Linked DNA regions of Homo sapiens: region 2 is linked to region 1. The links come from fine-mapping of genetic effects on gene expression. A gene starts in region 1. The other region holds a variant in brackets. All regions are shown on one strand. Distances are from middle to middle. Region 1 holds the start of MGMT (O-6-methylguanine-DNA methyltransferase). Region 2 overlaps LOC107984281 (a long non-coding RNA gene).

The links. PIP is the estimated chance that this variant, and not a neighbour inherited with it, causes the effect.
Region 2: its variant is the best candidate, but not a certain one, in a credible set for the expression of MGMT in tibial artery (GTEx, PIP 0.72).

The regions. Positions count from the first base shown.
Region 1 is chr10:129,465,505-129,468,240 of GRCh38, forward strand. MGMT (O-6-methylguanine-DNA methyltransferase) reads left to right here and starts at 1,737. Exons shown (of 5, transcript NM_002412.5): 1 at 1,737-1,792. RefSeq lists silencers at 1,377-1,816, 1,837-2,036 and an enhancer at 1,603-2,525.
Region 2 is chr10:129,792,386-129,795,397 of GRCh38, forward strand. The region is part of intron 3 of LOC107984281 (a long non-coding RNA gene); the gene reads left to right. Among named protein-coding and RNA genes, the nearest start is that of MIR4297, 49 kb to the right of the region's middle. The variant A/G (reference allele first, on the strand shown) is at 1,789.

The DNA of each region.
Region 1 (2,736 bases):
ATGTTTCATCTGTCCTTCCACATTAGTTTAAATGTGAATGGCTGCTTGGAACACAGTGTTGAGAAGGATTCCGAGGCTGTGTCCAGGTTCAGTGGGGAAAAAGTGCCTTGATTTGACCATTATATCGTGTACTCAGGGCCTAGTTTATTTCCCACAAGCAGCTATTTAAAACATGTCTCATCCAAGGCAGGGTCGGGGTGGGGAACCTCAGAGGATCAATGATGCAGCCTGTATTGTCACCAGGGCTCATCCCAAAGCAAATCCTGCTGAAGTTCTCCTCTGAACAACCCTTATCACTCATGCTAATATGTTGGATCCTGCAAGTCACAAATACGAAGGTATGAGCATTGGCCGAATCCCAACAGGGAAACTTCACCGGGAAGGTGAAGACCCCTTTCCATTAAGATAACAAACAGAACCTAGAAGGCCCGTAGCATGGTGGCTTAGAACATGTGGGCCTTGGATGGGATCCTGCCAAGGGGTGTGTGACCTCTCCGAAGCCTCCAGGGATGATACTACTCCCTGGGGTGCTTATGCCAACCACGTTAGAGACAATGGTTTCTGTACCCATTGCCTGGGGCTGCCATAATAAAGTGCCACACACTGAGTGGCTTAAAACAACAGAAACCTATTGTCTCACACTTCCGGGGGCCAGAAGTTTGAAACCCAGGTGTGTTAGGATCCTGCTCCCTCTGAAGGCTCCAGGGAAGAGTGTCCTCTGCTCCCTCCGAAGGCTCCAGGGAAGGGTCTGTCCTCTTAGGCTTCTGGTGGCTTGCAGGTGCAGCCCTCCAATCCTCCTCCCCAAGCGGCCTTCTGCCTATAAGGACACGAGTCATACTGGATGAGGGGCCCACTAATTGATGGCTTCTGTAAAGTCCCCATCTCCAAATAAGGTCACATTGTGAGGTACTGGGAGTTAGGACTCCAACATAGCTTCTCTGGTGGACACAATTCAACTCCTAATAACGTCCACACAACCCCAAGCAGGGCCTGGCACCCTGTGTGCTCTCTGGAGAGCGGCTGAGTCAGGCTCTGGCAGTGTCTAGGCCATCGGTGACTGCAGCCCCTGGACGGCATCGCCCACCACAGGCCCTGGAGGCTGCCCCCACGGCCCCCTGACAGGGTCTCTGCTGGTCTGGGGGTCCCTGACTAGGGGAGCGGCACCAGGAGGGGAGAGACTCGCGCTCCGGGCTCAGCGTAGCCGCCCCGAGCAGGACCGGGATTCTCACTAAGCGGGCGCCGTCCTACGACCCCCGCGCGCTTTCAGGACCACTCGGGCACGTGGCAGGTCGCTTGCACGCCCGCGGACTATCCCTGTGACAGGAAAAGGTACGGGCCATTTGGCAAACTAAGGCACAGAGCCTCAGGCGGAAGCTGGGAAGGCGCCGCCCGGCTTGTACCGGCCGAAGGGCCATCCGGGTCAGGCGCACAGGGCAGCGGCGCTGCCGGAGGACCAGGGCCGGCGTGCCGGCGTCCAGCGAGGATGCGCAGACTGCCTCAGGCCCGGCGCCGCCGCACAGGGCATGCGCCGACCCGGTCGGGCGGGAACACCCCGCCCCTCCCGGGCTCCGCCCCAGCTCCGCCCCCGCGCGCCCCGGCCCCGCCCCCGCGCGCTCTCTTGCTTTTCTCAGGTCCTCGGCTCCGCCCCGCTCTAGACCCCGCCCCACGCCGCCATCCCCGTGCCCCTCGGCCCCGCCCCCGCGCCCCGGATATGCTGGGACAGCCCGCGCCCCTAGAACGCTTTGCGTCCCGACGCCCGCAGGTCCTCGCGGTGCGCACCGTTTGCGACTTGGTGAGTGTCTGGGTCGCCTCGCTCCCGGAAGAGTGCGGAGCTCTCCCTCGGGACGGTGGCAGCCTCGAGTGGTCCTGCAGGCGCCCTCACTTCGCCGTCGGGTGTGGGGCCGCCCTGACCCCCACCCATCCCGGGCGAGCTCCAGGTGCGCCCCAAGTGCCTCCCAGGTGTTGCCCAGCCTTTCCCCGGGCCTGGGGTTCCTGGACTAGGCTGCGCTGCAGTGACTGTGGACTGGCGTGTGGCGGGGGTCGTGGCAGCCCCTGCCTTACCTCTAGGTGCCAGCCCCAGGCCCGGGCCCCGGGTTCTTCCTACCCTTCCATGCTGCCAGCTTTCCCTCCGCCAGCTGCTCCAGGAAGCTTCCAGAAGCCCCTGCGCGGGCCTTGGCTTGCAGCAACCCTTTAGCATACTTAGGCAGAGTCCCATATTTCCTTCCTGCTGGAGGCCAAGTTCTAGGGGCCTTCTGGTTACTATGGCTGGTGTTTGTGTACATCATACCCTAACTGTATTCATCAACACTTAGAGTAAGCAAGGCTCGCTGGAGAGCCACACACACTGGGCACCGTAATGTCGGTTATAACACCGCAGAGGAGTTCTGAACTATGTATTTCGCACTCCTGGGTTCATCATCTCCTGAAATCTCAGGGTGGTGTTTGCTCTCAGTTGCTTCAGCTGAGTAGCTGGCTTTCTGTCCTGGAAAGCAGACTTTGTACATGTGTGTGCAACCTATGCCTGCTGAGATCATCATCAGACAGGGAAGCGGCTTGGTCCAGAGAGCTGTTCTCAGTAGAATGTTAAGCACAGAGAGCTGAGAATTAGACTGGTTATTTACATAGACATCCAAATAGAAACCTATAGAGTATCTGTTAAGTCAGGCTCTCCCGTCATCTCCCCCATCCCTGGGCAGGTGTCTAGGAGATGGTTTTGTTATTTTCAGGGCCCTCTCA
Region 2 (3,012 bases), 330 kb after region 1:
GATTCATGCCATATTTTGAGGCACGTAAATTTCTCAAGTGGCACAATTAAAGTGGAAATATTAGGTGGTGAGAACTTGGCAGTCTCTCCAACTTGGAAGGCGCACCCGCTATGCAATAATGGGTCAAAAATTCATTCAAGTTTTACTGCTGTTCCGAGTTTTAAAAGACTTTTCACAGTTGAATGCAAAGTAGTAAAAACCAGGGTATTAGGAAATGAGAATGCAGTTCTGTTATTCAGACATGACTTTTAATTTCAAATTGAAATCACATGCTCACTTTTCTGGATATGACCGAAGGGAAAAGGTACAGGCTGAAGAGATTTTGTCTTTAAGGGTAAAAGTCCCGAGTGGAAATGAATTTATTGCTGGGCCAGCCTCAAAATCAGCACTGTCCATGACTGAGGAAGTGTGGCGATCGCCTCCCACCCAGAGAAGCAGCCGCATTTGTACTGGAAGCCAAGTTCATCAGCAGCTCTCTCTCTATCCACCCCCGGACAGGGTCTCAAACCAGGGACTGGAGAAGTGTGTTGGGACAGGCACACACATGCACACATGTGCACACACTGTGTGTCCCACCAACACAACGCATGCACATTCACACACACACACTTGGTCTCTGCCTCATACACACATGCACACACACTTGGTCTCAGCCTGTTACACATTCACGCACACACGCTCCATCTCTCCCTCCTACACGTGCACACTCGCACATGCATGCACGGTCTCTGCCTCTTACACAGGTAGAGAAGAAAAAGACAAGTGGGCTTCCAGGAGTCTCACTTCTGCCTGCACGGAGTCTCCATTAGTATTTCTCTCCCTCATTTATCATCCCGGGCACAGTCCCCTGCCTGTCGCCAAATTTTCTTTTCCATGAAAAATCTCTCCTTCGGAGAAGAGCTTCTCCCTGACTGGTTGTCAAATACGCTTTTGATTTTCTCACACACCGACTTAAAAGGCAGGCGGTTCAGGGCAAAGCCGGCACCCAGTAGGCCTTTCTGCTTCTCGAATCTTTGACTGTGCAGGTTGTTCCCCCACCCCCACCCCATTTTAACTTATTGATTTGAACTGTCAAGTAAATGACTCCGTTGCACTTAATCAGAATCATAGACTTCTGCCATCCCAATTAGAATTCGAGGCCATGCACCGGAGCTCCACATGTGTGGCTCTGCTGGAGGGCTGGGCACAGCCCCTGCACCTAGGGCTCTCTGGTGCGATGGTTTGCAGGATAAATCCTGCCCTGGGAGCAAAGGCCATCTGCAGTAGGCATGCAAGCCGATGCTGTCCTGTAGGTATTTGCCAAATATTTATTTTTCCCTGAAATGATGCAAACGATTTGGTGAAGCCTTCCCATGACCAATTCAGGATGCGGAATGATTTAGCATTCAGTAAATTTCACAACACCTTTCTGCCTCCCTCTTCCCTCTCCCCTCTCCCCTTCTCCCCACCTCACCCCACCTCACCCCCTCCCTCTTCCTTCCTCTTTTCCTTCCCTCCTCCTTTCTTTTTTACCCTCTCCTGCCCCTGACCCGGTACCTATACCACTTGGATTATTTACAGCAAATCTTACAGATGTCAGTATTGTCTTGTTCTGAAGCTAAAAAGGACAATGAGTTCCCGCTGACCTCGGTACAATGGATCTCGCTGGAGCACAATATGTATTTTATACAGGCAGTGAAAAGCCTACAAGTAATTGAGAGAGAGAGAAATGTCACTGTAGCATTTCTGTTGACACTGCACTCTGCGTGTGGAGGGAAGCCCGGGGCCTGGCGGCAGAGGAGCAGCCGC[A/G]GCCGCGCTGTGCACCCAGGAACCTGTCCTTCAGGAAGGAGGCGGCGGTAGAAATTAATCTGCTCAGATTTTCCAACTAATGAAGTATTCCCAGGACCGAAGGGGCCACACAGAGACGTCTGCGGCGCTGCTTCCCATTCGCGCAGATGCACACGGATTCCGGGCCCAGCGCTAACTCGGATGTGTTTTCCAGCTCCGTTTATTGTCTTCCATAATGCTTAACGTACTGTTTGTATATGTTGTCCTTGCACTATATTTTGATATGCTCTCATATATTTTATTCATCTCTGGCTTTCTACGAAGGCAAGCTCGCAGCAACACTGAGAATAATTATTCTCCGCCATCAATCAAGAGTCTCCGTGGTTGGCTCCTCATGGGATGGCCTTGATTTTAAGCATGAAATGTAACTCTTGCTCTTTGGGGCCATTTCATTCTTTGTTCCTGGGGCCTGCCTGTGGGCTCGTCGGGACACTAGAGAGCAGGCATTCCCGTGGCCGCGGGAGAGCCGCGTTCCTGGCTGGCCATTCCCGGGCCCTCTAGAAGGGAGCGGCTGAGAGCTCTTTAGCCCTACTTGGGGTTTAAAAGTGAAAAAGGAGCAGCTCTTCCTGGTGGAAATTGCGAGCAGAGGCTGCGTGAGTTCCGTAACTCGCACACAGCCTCCATTTGGAGCCAGAATGAGCACGTGAGGGACCCCGGGCAGAGGGGCCAGTGCTGACATTATGCTCCATGCAACCTCCCATCCTGTTGTGGGAGATGGTGCAGACCAGGGGAGGGAGTCAGTGTGTGAGGGGATGAGGCTCCAGTCCTTTCCTGGGCACCAAAGCCAAATCCCCCCTGAGCACAAGGATCTTCCCTGGGTGACTGCAGAAGCAAGGAGACCTGGCCCACCGTCCCTGCTGGCTTCCTACTGCCCAGCCGCGTCTCTGCCTCCCTACCCCAAAGCCTGCAGCTCCTAAGTGCACTATTTGGGCTGTCTTGTTTGCAGCGGATGTTTGAAAGACAGACCCTCTTCTCTAGTGCTGGCCTTGAGTCCTCAGAGAGCTGCTGTTTCCTGGGTTTCTAGCTCCATGGAGGCAGAAAGAGACCCCAGGGTGGCCTTTGGAGGAAGATGAGCCCCCTGGGTTAACCGAGCTTCTGCAGTGGTGCTCCTGGGTCATCACTGTTGCCACTGGTCAGAGCCAGAGTGTGTCTGCCTGTGCTCTCCTGAACACAGTGGAGCTATTT